Linked DNA regions of Homo sapiens. The protein of the gene in region 2 purifies or fractionates together with the protein of the main gene of each other region. This does not show direct contact. Each region holds a gene or a part of one and is shown on either strand. Other genes may lie near its edges.

The links. Proteins that work in one complex are often made in the same cells at the same time.
Region 1: the proteins of PDCL3 (region 2) and ACTR1B purify together in Homo sapiens (affinity purification with mass spectrometry; 4 studies listed by BioGRID and IntAct, with this or other methods). This does not show direct contact.
Region 3: the proteins of PDCL3 (region 2) and CCT7 purify together in Homo sapiens (co-immunoprecipitation; 5 studies listed by BioGRID and IntAct, with this or other methods). This does not show direct contact.

What each region holds. Positions count from the first base shown.
Region 1 is NC_000002.12:97,655,421-97,661,057, reverse strand, and holds the end of ACTR1B (beta-centractin), read left to right. Parts: intron 1-411; coding exon 412-487; intron 488-1,580; coding exon 1,581-1,706; intron 1,707-2,054; coding exon 2,055-2,179; intron 2,180-2,414; coding exon 2,415-2,631; intron 2,632-2,741; coding exon 2,742-2,834; intron 2,835-2,940; coding exon 2,941-3,115; intron 3,116-3,548; coding exon 3,549-3,610; intron 3,611-3,865; coding exon 3,866-3,906; intron 3,907-4,097; coding exon 4,098-4,200; 3' UTR 4,201-5,119; downstream 5,120-5,637. UniProt on the Homo sapiens protein: Component of a multi-subunit complex involved in microtubule based vesicle motility. It is associated with the centrosome.
Region 2 is NC_000002.12:100,565,993-100,573,023, forward strand, and holds part of PDCL3 (phosducin-like protein 3), read left to right. Parts: intron 1-510; coding exon 511-637; intron 638-2,938; coding exon 2,939-3,029; intron 3,030-3,585; coding exon 3,586-3,729; intron 3,730-5,597; coding exon 5,598-5,806; intron 5,807-7,031. UniProt on the Homo sapiens protein: Acts as a chaperone for the angiogenic VEGF receptor KDR/VEGFR2, increasing its abundance by inhibiting its ubiquitination and degradation.
Region 3 is NC_000002.12:73,237,295-73,244,325, forward strand, and holds part of CCT7 (T-complex protein 1 subunit eta), read left to right. Parts: intron 1-2,348; coding exon 2,349-2,502; intron 2,503-3,142; coding exon 3,143-3,249; intron 3,250-5,709; coding exon 5,710-5,835; intron 5,836-6,702; coding exon 6,703-6,755; intron 6,756-7,031. UniProt on the Homo sapiens protein: Component of the chaperonin-containing T-complex (TRiC), a molecular chaperone complex that assists the folding of actin, tubulin and other proteins upon ATP hydrolysis.

The DNA.
Region 1 (5,637 bases), 2.9 Mb from region 2:
AGCAGGGTGCACAAGGGAGCCCCGACCCAGCTTCCTGGGGTTGTCCTCCCTCAGTCTGTGGATGGTGACGGCAGCCCTGCCCCACCGAAGTCAGGAGCGTGGGCTGAGTCACTGTGGCTGCAGGAAGCCGACCCTCTGCAAGGGCTGGGCCATGGAGGGCTGGGTTCTGGCGCTCAGACATGCAGCTGTCTCTGCTGACCGTGCCTTCTGACCCTGAGCTTCTCGTCCTGCCTAGGCCCCCTCTCTAGCCCCGAACCCCATAGGCCCCAGTTCCAACCTGTGCCCCCCAGCCACATCCTGGTGTTTGGAGGCCAGGTACCCTCTGGGCGACTATGGTTGGATTTCGGTTTTTCTGGACACAAGCTCTGCCATGCTCCCTGCCCACCTTGCTGACGTTATCCGTCCTAACAGTGTCGGGCGGCCGAAGCACATGCGGGTGATGGCTGGAGCCCTGGAGGGGGACCTCTTCATCGGACCAAAAGCAGAGGTAACACCGAGGAGCCTGCCTTTCCCTGGGGGTGGGGTCCTCAGTTGCAGGAACATGGCATGTGTTCTTGGGCCTCTGCTGGTGACCTCCCGGGTACCTCCTCCAGGCTCCAGCTGGGAAGTGCTGTGCAGGGGCACCTCCCCCTGAGATGGGGCAGCAGTTCCTCTTCTAGGGAGCATGGGTAGAGCTCATCGTGTCCTGTCTTTTAGAAGCTATTTGGAAGCTACAGAACCAAGAACTGATCAAAAAGTGATATAAGAGTCAGAATCACACACACTTCACGTCTGCTCTAATGAGGGCCATGGGGCCGCCTCTCACAGTGAAGCCGGAGTGTCCCACCAAGGGGCTGCATGGCCTGATCAGACCCTCAGGAGAGCATGTGTGGGTGTGGGGAGAGCAGCAAGCTGAGCTTGGCCAAGGGCAGTTTAGGCGCCTGAGGAGCATTGTGTCGGGTGCCGGGGCGTGGGGCATGCGTGGTTCTGGGCCCAGAAAGGGGAGGCCTGAGCTGGAGGTGCAGAGGGTGGGGGTCTCGCAGATGGGGTCCGTAGGAGCCGAGGTGGTGAGAGGAGCTAAGTGGTGCTAGGTGAGAAGGGGCATGGCTGGGGGGACATCGAAGGGCAGGTGGAGGCAGCATGTCAGTGCAAACAGGGGACTGGTGAGGACCGGCCAAAGGGCTGGGGGGAGAGGCGTAGGTCAGGGGGCACAGGTGGCCCAGGAGGGGCCGTGTTGGGCGGCTGCAAGGTGCCGGCGCTGGCCAGAGGGGAGCTGGCAGAGTGTGAGGAGAATGTGGGGGATGTGCCGGCAGTGAGAATGGGGAAGAAGAGAGCCTGCAGATTGCGGGGCACACTGCCACCCTCTCTGATCCCCCCAGCTGAAGCTAGCTGGGCTCTAAGAGCCTAAGAAGCTGGTGGGCAGGTGAGCCCATGCTGAGTTCAGGACCCGCCACAGACCCTGGGACACCCAGTGAGCAGGGGTGGTTCTGGTCAGGGCAGGTGAGGTTCTGGTCAGGGCAGGTGAGGGTCAGCTTCCAGGAGGGCGGAAAGCAGCCGCTGAGCAAGGGCCGGGTGCCACACCTCCCTTCCCACCCCACCAGGAGCACCGGGGGCTGCTGACCATCCGCTACCCCATGGAGCACGGCGTGGTGCGAGACTGGAACGACATGGAACGCATCTGGCAGTACGTCTACTCCAAGGATCAGCTGCAGACCTTCTCGGAGGAGGTGTGGCGGCTGCCCCTCCTGCATGCTCTGCATTCTCCTGGCCATGCCCCTCTCCTCTGCGTCCCTCCTCGCCGGGCTCCCACATTTCCCTTCTACATTTCTAGAGGGCCTGCTGCCTTTCCGTGTGTGTCTGGGTGCGCATACGTACCCAGTGGCTGCTAGGCAGAATCTTCCAAAGAGAGCCGGATCTCCGGAAGAGTAACTGCCAGCAGATAAAGGGATGGGGCCCTCAGGAGGGGTAGGAGGCTGAGCTGCCTGTGCGCCAGCGGGTGTGGTTCTCTGGAAAGAGCCTTTTAGGGCCTTGCAAGTTGCCTCCTCTGATGCCTACAACTGTCCCGTCCCTCGCAGCATCCTGTGCTCCTCACGGAGGCCCCGCTCAACCCGAGTAAGAACCGGGAGAAGGCGGCAGAGGTGTTCTTTGAGACCTTCAACGTGCCGGCCCTGTTCATCTCCATGCAGGCTGTGCTCAGTCTGTGAGTGCTCCCTAAGCCTGGCCTCCCTGAGTCCTGTCCTCCCTGTGCCGTCCTGCTTGCCATGACCAGGGTCTGACTTCCCTGGAAAAACAGCCCCTTGATGACTGTTCCTCTAGGGAGTCCCTCGTGTCCTCTCTTCAGACTAGATAATGCAGATGTGCCAGGGTTCCTCCCCTGGGTGAGGAGGTCCCCGTGCCTCAGTGGCTGAGGTGAGGGGATGCTGACCTGGTGACAGGTACGCAACAGGACGCACGACAGGAGTGGTTCTAGACTCAGGGGACGGGGTCACTCATGCTGTGCCCATCTATGAGGGCTTTGCCATGCCTCACTCCATCATGCGGGTGGACATTGCCGGCCGCGACGTCTCCCGCTACCTCCGACTCCTGCTGCGCAAGGAAGGGGTTGACTTCCATACCTCGGCTGAGTTTGAGGTTGTCCGGACAATCAAAGAGGTGACAAGGGGCGAGAGGGTGTGGACACGACCTGGGGTGAGGAAAGGGTGGCACCAAGGCACAGGTGTCCCAGGTGCAGCCTTCTGAGGGCTGTGTCCCTGTCCCCGCAGCGAGCGTGCTACCTGTCCATCAACCCACAGAAGGATGAGGCTCTGGAGACGGAGAAGGTGCAGTACACGTTGCCAGACGGCAGCACGCTTGATGTAAGTGGCCGGGCCTGGCACTGGAGTGGCAGCCGATGCCCAGCCTGGGGGAAGGGGTAGCCCGCTTCTCCAGGAAGCCTGTCTGCCTCAATCTTGTACACTAAAGGTGGGGCCTGCACGATTCCGGGCCCCCGAGCTGCTGTTCCAGCCGGACCTTGTCGGGGATGAGAGTGAGGGGCTCCATGAGGTGGTGGCCTTCGCCATACACAAGTCCGACATGGACCTGCGCCGGACGCTGTTCGCCAACATCGTGCTCTCAGGTGGCTCAACGCTTTTCAAAGGTACTGTGGCTTGAGAGTTGGTGGTGGTGAGACGAGGCCCAGGGCAGCTGGACCCTCAGAGAGTATACCCCTACCCAGAGCCATATTCTGTTGGCTTTTTGGTGGTGCTCAATGAACATTTTTTTTAACAGACCAAAATTTAAAATTAAATTTTGTTTACTCTGTGAATAGAGGAGAAGTTTACACAAGCTCTAAAGTGTATTGTGAGAGTCGAGCAAGGAGCATGTGCGGCTTCATCTCACGCTGCCTCTGTGAGGACGCAGGGCCCGCAGGCAGCCATGGGGCTGGATCATTTCTCAGCCTTGCCCTTCATCCTGGGAAGAGCTGCTGATAGAGGACCAGCAGTAGCTGGGGGCCCTGAAGGCTGGGTGCGGGAGCTAGCAGCGAGGAGGCCGGGTGCAGACCCCAGGCTCAGCCAGCTTTGTGTTCACAGGCTTCGGAGACCGATTACTCAGTGAAGTGAAGAAGCTTGCCCCAAAGGATATCAAAATCAAGGTGAGGTTACAGAAACTCCCCCTGGGGCACTAGGGCGCTGGCAGCCTTGGCATGGGGAGGAAGGTTGAATGCTGCCCCCAGACCCGCTCACCAGCTCACGTCCACCTAGTCCTGTTCTTCCCAAGGCTGCTGCTGCCACTCCCCAGCTTATGCCTTTGCTGTCAGGCTTCAGGACCTGGGGAAGGTGACCCCAAGGCTGGGAGGATGGCTTCTGGGTGGGGATCCACAGTTAACGTGGCCACTTCCTCCTTCTAGATCTCAGCCCCGCAGGAACGGCTGTACTCCACATGGATTGGGTGAGGCGGGGCTCAAGGGAGGGCTCTGGGAGGAGACCACTTTACCCTGGATGCTCCTCCCATTGTTGGCCTAGGCCACGTGGAGGTGGGTGGATTTCCCTCCCAAATTAGGGAAATGCAACTCTGAGCACCCAGGAAGGTGGTTGGCTCCCTGACAGGTCCACAGCAATACTATCCCTCCATCCCCACAGCGGCTCCATCCTGGCCTCGCTGGACACTTTTAAGAAGATGTGGGTGTCCAAAAAGGAGTATGAAGAGGATGGCTCCCGTGCTATTCATCGCAAAACTTTCTAGTGCCCAAGGAGGGCGGGGCATGTTGGGAGAGGGGGAGGGAGGGGAGACAGAGCCTTTAACCCTTTTTGGTCTTGGCTCGTATACTAGGCTTAGGGTCCCCTGCATGCCCTGAACCCCTGGGTGGGTGGCACAGCAGTGCCCCCCTGCAGCCTTCCCCTCTACACAGGACATGCACACACAAGTAACATTGAGCTGCATGGACAGGAGCCTTGAGCTGGCGTGTGGGAATTGAGCGCCATGTCAGGCTGTTGTGGGTATCCCCCTGGCAGGGCCAGCTAGGCCTGTGGTTCCCTGCTCCGACTCTCAGGGCTGCCTCCCTGAGCTCCAGGGCCAGAATGCCTGGATGCCTGGGTAGCCAGTTTGGGGAGTGGGCTGCAAGGGGCAGCCAGCAGCTCCCACTGGTGTGTCACTGCATCCATTGCCACCTCCTGTTCGTGACCTGACAGGGTGACACAGCCCCTTTCACACTCTGTCCTCCTATCTTCCTGGGTAGATGCCCTGGTGTAGGGCTGAGTACTGAATGGTCTTCCATCCCCAGCAAGGGGGTGCAGCCCAGGGTCAGGCCCTTCAGAGCCAGGGCAGAGGATGCACGGTGGCTAGAGCCGCTGCACTATCCTTTTCAGAGCACTTCATCCACTTGCTCCTCCCTCTACCCTCGGCACCCTGGGTGGGAAAGGGTTGATGCTCATCATTTATTGAGGGGAAGCCACTTAATAAGGAGTCAGACCTAAAAGGGGGTGGGGGACATTTTCTTACCTCACCCAAGAAAGAGGTCGTCACTTTTGCTGTGGCCAGGGCCCCACCTCCCTCTCTCAGATATGTACAATAATTTAACACGGTTGCCTGAAAAAAACTTTTGTAAATCATTATAGTAATAATTATGGACAAGGCCCAGTGTGTGGCTCTGTTTTCTTGTGGCTCTCTGTGCTATCGTTTGTTCTTCCATCCCTGGGGACTTTCAGAGAAAGGACCAGAGAGAATGCAGCAAGGCACTGGCTCTAGCTTAGCGGCATGAAGGTTTCAGTGGTTGGCCCGCCAACGTGGCACAAAAAGCCTCAGGAGGCTGGGCTCTCACCCTGTAGCATAATTCCCTCGCCTGTTACCTCCCCTGCTGCAGTCCACCAGGGGAAGTAGAACCAGGCTACCTTCTTTGCCCCCGGACCCTGGACAGGCCTATTTGAGCACCTCTGCTCACCCCATTCAGCCAGGGCTAAGGCTGGTGGACACCAGCAATGATGCAAGCTCACGCCTTCAGACAAGTCAGGATGGGGAAGGCAGGGAGAGGCAGAGAGGCTGTGAGCTTAGCCAGGCCCTAGAGGAATAGGCAGAAGAGCAGTGAGGAATTAGGGTTTGGAGAATGTCTGCTCTTTACTTTCTTAAGTGTTTGAGAACCTACAGTGTTTCCAGGATGGTGCCGTGTGTTTGGGGCCAATGGTC
Region 2 (7,031 bases):
TCCCGGGTTTATGCCATTCTCCTGCCTCAGCCTCCCAAGTAGCTGGGACTACAGGTGCCCGCCACCACGCTCGGCTAATTTTTTGTATTTTCAGTAGAGACGGGGTTTCACCGTGTTAGTCAGGATGGTCTCTATCTCCTGACCTCGTGATCCGCCTGCCTCAGCCTCCCAAAGTGCTGGGATTACAGGCGTGAGCCACTGTGCCCGGCACTCTCAGTCATTATTAAAAATATTGAACACATGCCAAGTCAGAGCCTTGGTATCCGTATTGATACTGATCTGCACTCCCTATCCTAATTTTTACCCCAAGAATAGCTCCTCCATTCAGGGAGGGGTAGACAGGAAAAACAAAACGGGGGCTATGGATCTTTTGACACTTTCTCAGAAATAGTTCACAGACTGGTGTGCATTCCTCCCTTCCTGTCACTTTTCCCATTTGGCCCCTTGCCCAACGTGGCACCCTACATACTAGACTTAGCACTCATGGTAACCTTGGTCCCGCTCTTCTAGGACCCCAACGCAGACACTGAATGGAATGACATCTTACGCAAAAAGGGTATCTTACCCCCCAAGGAAAGTCTGAAAGAATTGGAAGAGGAGGCAGAAGAGGAGCAGCGCATCCTCCAGCAGTCAGTGGGTGAGTTCACTCGCTTTCCTCTGCACCTGTCTGGGTTAGGAGATGGCTCCCTAAGCCTCTGACTGCCCTGCCAGGAGACAGGTTGGAGTGCCAGCATGGACACTCTGTGTCTGTGGGACCTCAGACAAAACACAGGGCGTCTCTCACCTTCACCTTCCTGAGCCATAGACTTAGGGGACTTCAGATATGTCCCACAAGTCCTTGTCCATGTCACATGAGCACTGAAGAAAATACTTCTTTCTGCTTTCTGGTCTGTGATTCCCTTTGATAATGTCATGGAAATTTGTTCAAGGTTTTTAGTACTTGTATTTTCCTGAGCATATACTTTATTTTCTGTGGTTTCATTGAGGATATTAACTAAAAATTGCTTCATTTGGGGAGGCATAAGATGTTTGCAATGTGTGGGAGTCTGAGGGGGGTTTTCTCAAAGGCAGTTGTACTGTCTGAATTGGAGTCCCTTGGAGTGCTGGTAACCCCACCCACCTAGTGTTTACTGAAGCAGTCTCTGGAATGAGGCCCAGGAATCTGCATTTTAAACAAGTGCCTTAAAGGATTCTGATGCGTGTCATAGTTTGAGAAGCACTGGTCCCAGGGACTAGTACTTTTGTCCTCTGTTGACACATTAGAGCTAATTTAGAGAAGGATTTATTAGAAAGTATCCAGCGAGTGCTTACTGCATGATTATCATTGTCAGGTGCTTTTCTGGGGTTGGGGATTTAGCTATGCATAAGCCAGAGACAATTCTCTGCCCTCAGAGAACCAACATTCAAGTGGGGGAGACAGACAATAAACAATAAAGAAAATAAGGCAGTAAAAGGGACTAGAAAGGGTTGGAGGAGAAGCAGGCTCAGAGAGGGCCTCACTGAGATGACATTTGCATGGACCTGAAGGAGGTGAAGCTGGCATTTGGGTAAAGACCTGAAGGAGCTGAAGAACACATTTGAATAGACCTGAGGGAGTTGTTGAGACCTGAAGGAGGTGAAGAAGACATCTGGGTATTCCTGAAGGGGGTGACGTGAGCGAGTGAAATATGGGCCCTGGCATGGCTGGGAATCCCTGAGGAGCTGGAGGCGCTGGGGGAGAGAGTTCAGAGCAGCCTCAGCAGACCCAGAAGCTTCTAGTAAGGACCTTGGCCTTTACACCTAATGAGGCAGGAAGCTTTTGGATGTTTAAACAGAAGAGTGACATTTTCTCTTTTTTGTTTTTTTTTTGAGATGGAGTCTCGCTCTCTTACCCAGGCTGGACTGCAGTGGCGCAATCTTGGCTCACTGCAACCTCCGCCTCCCAGGTTCAAGCGATTCTCCTGCGTCAGCCTCCCGAGTAGCTGGGATTACAGACATGTGCCACCACGCCTAGGTAATTTTTTGTAGCGATGAGGTTTCACCATGTTGGCCAGGCTGGTCTCAAACTCCTGACCTCTAGTGATCCGCCCACCTCAGCCTCCCAAAGAGCTGGGATTATAGGCGTGAGCCACTGCACCCAGCCAAGGGATGCATTAACTTGGAGATCCCTATTAGACAAATAGCCACATTAAGAGGGCCCTTGGGTATGTTTTTCTCTACATTAGAGAAGTCTGGGCTGGAGGCCTATACTTTGGGAGTTGTCAGCATATTGATAGCACTGAAAGCCATGAGATTAGATGCAATCACCGAGGGAGTGGGTGTGGATAAAGAAGAAAAGTAGTCAAAGGTTTGAGCCTGGGGAATTTTAATCAGCAAAGGGTTCAACAGTAGGGCGGCTGGCTCACTCCTGTAATCCCAGCACTTTGAGATGGGCAGATCACTTGAGGTCAGAAGGTTCAAGACCAGCTTGGCCAACATGGTGAAACCCTGTCTCTATTAATGATACAAAAATTAGCTGGGTGTGGTGGCACACGCCTGTAATCCCAGCTACTCAGGAGGCTGAGGCAGGAGAATTGCTTGAATCTGGGAGGCGGAGGTTCTCAGTGAGTCAAGATCGCACCATTGCACTCCAGCCTGGATGACAAGAGTGAAACTCTGTCTCCAAAAAAAGGAAAATAAGCGGGGCAGGGTGAGGCGGAATAGGAGAAGAGAGGGGAGGAGGATCTGAGGGCTTGGGTAAAATGTTGTCAGTCAATAAATTGGGATTACAGGTGTGAGCCACCATGCCTGGCCTCTCAGCTTCTAATGTAGTGTGGTGCCTTAAGTAATTTTTGTTTAGGTAGGCTAAGGATCTGGTGTTGTGTGCATATCTTTAGGAGAAAAGAGAGGGGAAAAAAGAAAAATACATGTTCGTTCATCTTTTTAAATTTTTGCTTTTTGCCAATGTAACCAAATTCAGTGAAAACATATGAAGATATGACTTTGGAAGAGCTGGAGGATCATGAAGACGAGTTTAATGAGGAGGATGAACGTGCTATTGAAATGTACAGGTAAGCGCCACCCAGAGGGGCTGTTTGTTTTTTTGTTGTTGTTTGTTTTGTTTTGGTTTTTTTTTTGGCGTGGCAATAAAATGTGTGGGCTGAGCATGGTGACTCATACCTGTAGTCCCAACACTTTGGGAGGCTGAGGCAGGCAGATCGCTTGAGCTCAGAAGTTTGAGACCAGCCTGTGAAACCCCGTCTCTATAAATAATACAAAAACTAGCTGGGTGTGGTGGTGAACGGCTATAGTTCCAGCTACTCAGGAGCCCTGGAAGTGGAGGTTGCAGTGAGCTGAGACTGTGCCACTGCACTCCAGCCTGTGTGACAGAGCCAAACTCTGTCTCAAAAAATAAAATGAAATGTGTGTCCTTCAAAAAATTAATTTTCAGCTGAAACATCTAGGAGCGACTGCAATTAAATAATATTGTGAATTTTAGCAAACTGATCTTAGATTTTTGCCATAAGACCAATAAATAAACCTGGGCTTTTACAAGGATTGCCTTCTAGACGATGTGTGTGTACACGTGTTTGTGACGTAAGATGTTTCTCTCCTTGTTTTGTGCAGACGGCGGAGACTGGCTGAGTGGAAAGCAACTAAACTGAAGAATAAATTCGGAGAAGTTTTGGAGATCTCAGGGAAGGATTATGTTCAAGAAGTTACCAAAGCTGGCGAGGGCTTGTGGGTCATCTTGCACCTTTACAAACAAGGGTGAGCTGATCTTCCACTCCATCTATCAAATGTTAATTTGAATTTATGTCTTCAGGATCTCAGGCGTTACCTATATCAGAGGGTTAAGAAATTTTTTTTTCTGGGCCAGGCGCAGTAGCTCACACCTGTAATCCCAGCACTTTGGGAGGCTGAGGCAGGTGGATCATGAGGTCAGGAGATCAAGACCATCCTGGCTGACACGATGAAACCCCGTCTCTACTAAAAATACAAAAACAAAATTAGCTGGGCGTGGTCGCGGGCGCCTATAGTCCCAGCTACTTGGGAGGCTGAGGTGGGAGAATGGCATGAACCCGGGAGGCGGAGCTTGCAGTGAGCCGAGATTGCGCCACTGCACTCCAGCCTGGGCGACAGAGCGAGACTTTGTCTCAGAAAAAATTTTTCTGGTACTGAGTTTTTTGTGTTTTTTTTGCTGGTTTGCCCAAACCTTATTACTTAATTTTTTTATCTTAAGACTTTCAAGTTAATAATTTGTGACTAATATGAATGCCTTTGTTAAAGTATAGCAATGAAGACTATGCTTTTCTGTTTTTGAAAAGGAATTCCTAAGTTATTTATTCCTTTACAGGAACTCTGACATTTCAACATTCTATGTAATGAATTTATCTCATAGATGGCAAGGTTGGCCTTTACAGTAGTAATTGCCTGAACTGTGTGATACTGAGGGCCTCTGATTTTTCTCAGCTCTCCAGTCTTGTCTTAAACTGTAGAGTCCAGTGCTTATTTAGGAATTTCTTTTTTTTTTTTTTTTTTGTTTGAGACAAAGTCTCACTCCATTGACCAGGCTGGAGTGCAGTGGCATGATCTCGGCTCACTGCAACCTCCGTCTCCCAGGTTCAAGCGATTCTCCTGCCTCTGCTCCTGAGTAGCTGGGATTACAGGCGCCTGCCACCGCACTCAGCTGATTTTTGTATTTTTAGTAGAGACGGGGTTTCACCATCTTGGCCAGGCTGGTCTTGAACTCCTGACCTCATGATCCACTCATCTTGGCCTCCCAAAGTGCTGGGATTACAGGCGTTAGCCGCTGCACCTGGCCAGGAATTTCTTTAAAGCAGAAAACGTTTTCTGACATTTCATACTTTCTAAACCTTCAGCGTTTTCTCATTCAACCTTATAAGAAATGTATAGCAATTTTATCTTTTACATTGAAGCTGTTTTTCTGACTTGTTTTGTCAAATAAATTGGACTTTGGATTTGTGTTCTTCACTTTCCCTCAGCATATTAGGAAGTTTTTAAGAAATGTTAATTCAGCTGGGCATGGTGGCTTACACCTGTAATACCTGTAATCCCAGCACTTTGGGAAGCCATTGCGGCCGGATCTCGAGCTCAAGAGTTCAAGAGCAGCCTGGGCAACGTGGTGAAACCCTGTCTTTACAAAAAAAAAAAAAAAAAATCAGCTGGGCATGGTGGTGTGTGCCTGTAATCACACCTCCCGAGTAGCTGGGATTACAGGCGCCTGCCACTGCACCCAGCTAATTTTTGTATTTTTAGTAGAGATGGGGTTTCACCATCTTGGCCAGGCTGGTCTTGAACTCCTGACCTCATGATCTTGGCCAGGCTGGTCTTGAACTGCTGACCTCATGATCCACTCACCTTGGCCTCCCAAAGTGCTACTTGGGGGGCTGAGGTGGGAGCATTGCTTGTGAGCCGAGATCACACCACTTCACTCCATTTAGCCTGGGTGAAAACAAGACCCTATGTCAAAAAAAACATGTTAATTCATCTTAGCTAGCAGCAGAATTACTTGTGAAACTGTTACAAGGTTTTACTTAGGGTAGAAGGGTCATTGAGCTTTGTTCTGTATAAATGTAGGATCATAATTGCTTCTGTTTTCTATGTGTGTTTTATAGAATTCCCCTCTGTGCCCTGATAAATCAGCACCTCAGTGGACTTGCCAGGAAGTTTCCTGATGTCAAATTTATCAAAGCCATTTCAACAACCTGCATACCCAATTATCCTGATAGGAATCTGCCCACGATATTTGTTTACCTGGAAGGAGATATCAAGGCTCAGTTTATTGGTCCTCTGGTGTTTGGCGGCATGAACCTGACAAGAGATGGTAAGGGCTCTGGGAGACAGGCGGGGCAGTGAGAGATGGGAGGCGCATTTCTGTTGGAGAGAGTGTCTATTTCCTGGACTCCTGTTACGATGGTGGGTCAAGTTCACTTCTGCCTGTGTATGAGGACGGAAGCACGTTTAATCTCTCATCTTAGTTGCGTAATCAGGAACAGTTACAACTGGGCTCTACTGATTCTTAGTTCAAGGAAGGCGTGATAGACTTAAATATAAACATTTTTTATATTGGTGTGGAATATATTTTGTCTCTACAGTTGGATGTTTTTGTAGCTTGAAATCACAACATTCACTTTTGCTTTAATTCACATGAACACAGGGAGACGTTAATGTATGTATTTGTATTTTTCTACAGAAACATTCTCAGTTGAGTATGTTAGTAGCTTTTACATTTATTTACTTAGTTATTTATTTTTTGAGACAGAGTCTTGCTCTGTCACCCAGGCTGGAGTGCAATGGTATGATCTTGCCTCACTGCAACTTCTGCCTCCCAGGTTCAAGTGATTCTCCTGCCTCTGCCTCCCAAGTATCTGGGATTACTGGCACCTACCACCACGCCCAGCTAATTTTTGTATTTTTAGTGGAGACGGGGTTTCACCATGTTGGCCAGGCTGGTCTCAAACTCCTGGCCTCAAGTGATCTACCCACTTCAGCCTCCCAAAGTGCTGGGATTACAGACGTGAGCCACTGCGCCCGGCTAGTAGCTTTTATTTATTTTTTTTGAGACAGAGTTTCACTCTTCTTGCCCAGGCTGGAGTGCAATCACGTGATCTCGGCTCACTGCAACCTCTGCCCCCCAGGTTCAAGTGATTCTCCTGCCTCAGCCTCCCTAGTAGCTGGGATTACAGGCATGTGCCAACATGCCTGGCTAATTTTTTTGTATTTTTAGTAGAGACAGGGTTTCTCCATGTGGTCAGGCTGGTCTCAAACTCCTGACCTCAGGTGATCCACCCGCCTCAGCCTCCCAAAGTGCTGGGATTACAGGCGTGAGCCACTGCGCCTGGCCAGCTTTTAAATTAAATTAAAATTTTATTTAATTCTGCCTGTTAGCTCGGAAGGATGTGGTTTTTGTTTGATTGTTTGTTTTTTTGAGATGGAGTTTTGCTCTTTCGCTCAGGCTGGAGTGCAGTGGTGCGATCTTGGTTCACTGGAACCTCCACCTTCTGGTTTCAAGCAATTCTCCTGCCTCAGCGTCTCAGGTAGCTGGGATT
Region 3 (7,031 bases), about 27 Mb from region 2:
TTTTAGATGGGGGTACACTTTGCAGGTTGAGGTGAGAAAAAGTATACACAAGCATTGGGTAAGTTAACCTGTTGAGGTGAAAGAACCTGTTGAAGGTGATAGGAAGTGATTGAGACTCATGTTAGTTTTTGATTTAAAGTGTAAGACTCCATCCGTGGCAGGGGTGGACCAGAGAAGACTTGGGGCTGCCATAAGGAATGATTTAGCAAGACTGGGAGATGGTAGGGCCTTTCAGGACACACATCTTTCCCTTACAGAAGGTGCCAGGGACTGGGCCAGCTGAAGAGCCAGAAAGAATGCTGGGAGTATAGAGAAGCCATTTCTTGCCACCAGACCTGGGACACTCCAGCAAAAGGAAGGAATTTTCCCTTCAGTTGACGCCTGATCCCAAATGTAGGGGTTTACATGACAAGCATTCTTTTTAAAATAAAAAATAAAAGGAGTAATGTATGATTATTTGACAAGCATTTAAAAAAATTTAATGAGGGCCTGGCATGGTGCCTCATGCCTGTAATCCTAGCACTTCAGAAGGCTGAGGCAGGAGGGTTGTTAGAGGCCAGGAGTTGGAGACCAGCCTGGGCAACATTTTTTAAATACAAATTTAAAAAATTAGCCAGGTGTGGTACCTCATGCATTGCGGTCCAGCTACTCAGGAGGCTTGAGCTTATAGTAAGCTATGATCTCACCACTGCACTCCAGCATGGGTGGTGGAGCAAGACCCTGTCTCTTAGAAATATATATTAAAAAATGAATAATATATTAAATTACTCCCACTCTCTTATTCCGTAGAGTTTATTGGGTATTTTTCGTTTTCTTTTTGTAGAGACAGGGTCTTGCCATGTTCCCCAGGCTGGTCTTGAACTCCATGAGCTCAAGTGATCCTCTTTTTTCTACAGTGGTTTTTGTTTTTTATGTAAATCACAGTATGCCATTCCTCTGCTGAAAGCTTCCCAGGGCTTTCCTTTTTAGGAATGAAATCTGAACTCCTCACCATAGTGTGTCTACGAGTGTGTATGTGATCTGGTTCCTGCCTGCCTCTTCAGCTTTATTCCAGTCTTCCTCTTGCTTACTACCCTCCAGCTGCGCTGGCCAAAAGAGTTGAACTTTTTAAGGAATTGACCAGTTAATAAGGAATCAGCCTCATGAGTGGCAAGACTCTGTCTTTGGCAGGAATTCCTCACTCCTCATTGTTAGGTTGGGAAAGCTCTGTGCTTTCCTGTGCCTTCCTTGCTCAGACATCCACGTACCTCTAAGGACTAGGTGATGGCTTTCAAACTTTTTATTGCATTCCACAGTAAGAAATACATTTTTAATCATAGCCTAGTAACAAATTTAACACAATAAAAGTTTTGAAATAGTATTTATCCTTACTACATTCTGTGTCACACACAAAATTAGCCAGAAACACTTGAGAAGACTGGATCTAGTTCGTGGGCTTATCTCTGAAGGCTCAGATTTGAATGTGGAGAGAAAGTAGTCTGGTTTGCTAAGCTGAGAAATTGCTCTCTCTGCTAATAATGGTGGTCACTAGAGCAAAGATATCTGAGCGGGCCCTTTAAAACAAGCAAGTATCCCTGTTTCTCAGTTTCTAAAGCAGGTCTGCAAATGAAGCCCTTACGGGGATAGGGAATGTTCTGGAGACCAATGCAATATAGAAAGAGGAAAACTTCTTTGGGGTATCTGATTGGAAATTAGTCACACAGAAGCTTTATTCAGCCAGCATGAGAGATGGAAACATTGCTGTATGAATTAGATTTGCCATCATTTTTCAAAACAGGGCAAAGGTGCTGTTTGTTTCTCTGCCTGTTTTCCTACACTGCAGCTGAACATCACTGTTACATAAAGCTGACTGCCTAGGCATCTCTAGGACAACACCTCAAGCTCTTGGCATCTTGCATTTTGCATCAGTGTCCCATCTGCTTCTCTAAGATTGAGCTGTAACACAGACAAGTGGATGTTTTGCTGCGGAATGAACACTTAGCAGGGTCTGCCTCTTCCTCCTGTGTTGTGACCCAATTCCTCAGCACAGGGAGTAAGGTCAGAAGTTGAAAAGGCCATGGTCATTCAGCTGGGTACTGGAGAACTCATGATTTTTTCTTTTAGATTAGGTCAGTGCTTCTCAAACCATTTTCCTGTCTAGCATACCTGCAGGGTAGGCTAAATTTGATAGTGTCTCTGGAGGTAGAGGCTGGTTGGGGAATGGATGTGGTAGACAGTTGGGGGAATGTGGTTTAAGAAGACCTCTAGATAATTCTGTTAAGGGAGAGATGGGAGCATTTTCCCCTTTCCCCTGCCAGTCTCATTATAATAGATGATTATTAAAAGCAGTTAATTTCTTTCTTTTCTAGCCCACACCAGTTATCCTATTGAAAGAGGGGACTGATAGCTCCCAAGGCATCCCCCAGCTTGTGAGTAACATCAGTGCCTGCCAGGTGATTGCTGAGGCTGTAAGAACTACCCTGGGTCCCCGTGGCATGGACAAGCTTATTGTAGATGGCAGAGGTAAGTCTACAGAGTTCCTCAGGCCTGTGTGCAGGAAAGGAGGCTCCTGAGGGGGTGTTTGGGACTAGCATAGGTTGGTATCAGAAATCCCACTGCTTTTAAGATCGTTGAAAGATGACTCACTCTGAAGCAGTTCCAATTCTTATATTGTCCTGACTGCTGAGCCCGTGTGGGACTATATGAGAGAACCTAGGCTCAGGAGCCTGTTGCCTCATAGGGAGACGTGGCCTAGAAACATGAAATAGAACCATCTGGAGTTTCCTGTGTTCACTTCCATTGTTATCAAGATGAGAAAATTCCTGTTTATATCTTGGTATATTAATTGATGTGTGAGGGTATCAACTGTGGTAAGAATATCTAAGTGGTTACTTTTATTTAAAAAATCTTTTCTGTATCCAGTTGACCTGTATTAATTGCTCTTCAAGGAAAATTGGGAGTCTGTGGTCTGCAAAAGCTTGTGATTTTAGACCCTTTGTGTACAGAGCTAATTCTGTATAGAAAGATCAGATAGGTATCCTTTCCCTTCAGCCCTGCCGTGATCCCCTCTGCCCCATCCCAGTAAAGTGTAGATGGGTTCTAGGTCCCACTTGAAGACAGCATTTAAGAAAGGGGCTTTAGATTTTTGTTTGTTTCTTTTAAGGCAAAGCAACAATTTCTAATGATGGGGCCACAATTCTGAAACTTCTTGATGTTGTCCATCCTGCAGCAAAGACTTTGGTAGACATTGCCAAATCCCAAGATGCTGAGGTAGGAAAATAGTTGTGTGTTTAAATGGAGGTTGAAACACATGCTTGCTTGCTCCTTAGTTCTCCTCTATTAAATTTTTTTAAGATTTTATATAATTATAATTGTACAAGTAATACATGCTTATAAAAGTATTTAGAATTAACAGCCTTTTAAAATTCATACTATTTCGTTACATGTAGCTTTTCATATCCATTAATACATTGGTGAATGACAACAGTCTTTAGATATAAGTCTACTGCCTGAGATCTTAACAGGTTGTGTGCTGTCATTTGTGTGAGTTGCTAGGTTAAATAATTTGACTTCTCATCTCTTACAAAATGGGGCTGTAAACTAAGACTTCCAATCTGCCTTTCTTTCTTTTTTTTTTTTTTTTAAAGAGATAGGGTCTTACTATGTTTCCCAGGTTGGCCTTGAACTCCGGGGCTCAAGCCTTCTCTCACCTCAGCTTCCTTAGTCGTTGGAACTACTGGCATTCCCCACTACACCAGGCTTTTTTTTTTTTTTTTTTAAACTGATGATAAAACAGACATAATATTTATTCTTAATACCATGTTTAAGTGTATAATTCATGGCATTAACCAGTCTATCTTTTAAAAATAAATTCTAACACTGGAGTATTAATAAATGTGTTGACAGATAGGTTTTGTATTTTAGAGTACTGCAAAATATGTATACTACAGGTATGTCTTGAAGTTACGTTAAAAGGTTTATTAGGAGCCAAGCCTATAAAACAGGTATAGCATATATAAAATTAAAGAGAGAAGAGTCTGGATTTGATTTGTTTTTGTCTTCAACGAGGGAATAATGCCTTTTGGTCCAGAAATCTGCCCACTTAAACCTTCTCTATAGTAACCTTTTTTTTTTTGCCCCTTGAGAATTTCTTACCTTACACAGTGAACATACATGAAGTTAAAAATAAATTTCTGGGCTGAGCATGGTGGCTCATGCTTGTGTCTCATTACTTTAGGAGGCCAAGGTGGGAGGATCCCTTCAGTCCAGGAGTTTGAGATCAGCCTGGGCAATACAGCACGACCCCATCTCTACCGAAATAAATTTCTTCCAGTTTAGAGTTTATCCAATTTTCTTAGAAAGCTCTTTTTCTTTTTCACCCTCATTAAATAGGATTTAGATCCCATCACAGAAAAGCACCATCTAAAAAAGATTAGCAGACTAGTAATCTGCTTATTCCCAGTAGTTTTTTTTTTTTTTCTTTTGAGAGGGGGTTTCATTCTTGTTGCCCAGGCTGGAGTGCAATGGTGTGATCTTGGCTCACTGCAACCTCCGCCTCCTGGGATCAAGCAATTCTCTTGCCTCAGCCTCCCGAGTAGCTGAGATTGCAGGCACCCACCACCACGCCCGGGTAATTTTTGTATTTTTGGTAGAGACGGGGTTTCACCATGTTGGCCAGGCTGGTCTCGAACTCCTGACCTCAGGTGATCAGCCCGCCTCGGCCTCCCCAAGTGCTGGGATTACAGGCATGAGCCACCGTGCCTGGCCTCCTCATAGTTTTTGAAATATAAAGAACTTTGGCTGGTCCTAGGACGTTTGTTTTAGTGTGATTTGACTGAAAGTTACCTTTTTTTTTTTTTAACTCCTGGCCAGATGCAGTGGCTCATGCCTGTAATTCTAGCACTTTGGGAGGCCGAGGTGGGAGGATTGCTTGAGGCCAGGAGTTCAAAACCAGTCTAGACAACATAGGGAGACCCTTTCTCTATTAAAAAAGAAAGGAACTCCTGCAGTACCTTTTGCTTCTTGAGACGGAGTCTCACTCTGTCGCCCAGGCTGGAGTGCTGTGGTGCGATCTTGGCTCACTGCAACCTCTGCCTCCCAGGTTCAAGCAATTCTCCTGCCTCAGCCTCCTGAGTAGCTGGGATTACAGGCGCCCGCCATCACGCCCAGCTAATTTTTGTATTTTTAGTAGAGACAGGGTTTCACCGTGTTGTCCAGGCTGGTCTTGAACTCCTGACCTCAGGTGATCCACCTGCCTCAGCCTCCCAAAGTGCTGAGATTACAGGTGTGAGCCACCGTGCCCAGCCACCTTTTGCTTCTTAAACAATGTTTGTCTCTTGCTTCTTGGTACCATGATTATTTTAAGTATTGTATTACAATAAGCATGACAAGGACTGTTTTATTCATCACAATGCCTTGTACGTAACATAAGTTCTCAGTTCATGTGTGTAATTTTTTACCCTGAGGACATTTGATTGTCCACATCAGCCCTCTTTAGAGAATGGGGCTGTCTGGGGAATTAATTTGGTAGCCCAGGACTGTTTGACATGATGGATATGTAACTACCATTAGCTTCTTTCTACTTATTGCAAAAACCTGTGCTTCCAGAAAAAAGCTTGACATCCATTTAAATAATATTCAGTTTAAATGGGTAGCGTGCCTAAAAATGGAGTTTCAGGGCTTTATTCCCTGAACATCAGAAAACGTGTATTTCCTGTCATCATCTTCCAGGTGGGTGATGGCACCACCTCAGTGACCTTGCTGGCTGCAGAGTTTCTGAAGCAGGTGAAACCCTATGTGGAGGAAGGTTTACACCCCCAGATCATCATTCGAGCTTTCCGCACAGCCACCCAGCTGGTATGGCAGTACTGATTAACCTTCTCTTGGGCCTGGACACCTTCACATTTCTCTTAGGAAGGGGAATTTCTTTTCAGGAGTGTGGAGGGACTGGGGAACAGGGTACTTTGGGCATTTTCTGACATCTCCTTAGTAATCTCAGTTCTACTAATCTGTAGCCATTTGATGAGGTGTATTACTTAATCTCTTTAAGCCTCAGGTTAGAGTCAGCCTGGTAGACTATGATGTAGACATAGTCTTTTAGTAAGGACTAAGAGACTCATGGCATACTACTACTACATGCTATACTCAAGCACCTCATGGTGTATATTGAGACCTAGCTATTATTTGCCCTCTAACCTTCATTTGTGATCTGGGGCAAGTCATTTAATCTTTCTAGGCCTTACTTTCTTTGCTATCTCTAATTTGAGTGGTGACATTAAAATGAAATAATATATGAGGAGTACTTTGGAAAAAAATAAAAAGTTTATATATTTGTATGCATATTTTATATATAACTAATATATAAAGTGCTAGAAGTTGTCGTAGGTGTTTTTAGTAAACCAGGAGGTTTGGCTTAATCTCGTGTCACAGCTGTTTCCACTCATTCGTTGTAGCGTGTTACCTGCAGACCCAGAGCAAAATCTTGGAAGCACCCTGATTCTTCAGAACTGTATACCCACTCTGCATTTCTGACTTGGAATTTTCTGAACTATAGAGTTTTACATTTTTCTGAGCAGTTACAAGACCTAGAAGTGTTTTTTCAGCTGTAGAGTAGAAATGCTTAGGATTTGGGAGTGAACAGACTCAGGACTATTGAGAGATTGAGGTCCACTTCAGCAGTTTGTCTTTAGCATGAGAGACTCATTCAACTTCTGTTCTTGGCAGGCAGTTAACAAGATCAAAGAGATTGCTGTGACCGTGAAGAAGGCAGATAAAGTGTAAGTCTGTAGTGGGTTTTTTTTTTTTTTTTTAAAGAGACGGAGCCTTGCTGTATTGCCCAGGCTAGTCTTGAACTACTGGCTCAAGTGATCTCCCACCTGCGACTCCCAAAGTGCTGGGATTACAGGTGTGAGTCACCGTGTCAGGCCTTTGTCAGAACCTTGACTGACTTCCTGTGGCCAAATTGGATGCAGAAGCATGCTGCAATCCCTCTATGTGCCTGGGGCTGTTTGGCTCCTGCCAGACCCTTGGCTGTGTCCCAGCCCACAGAGCAC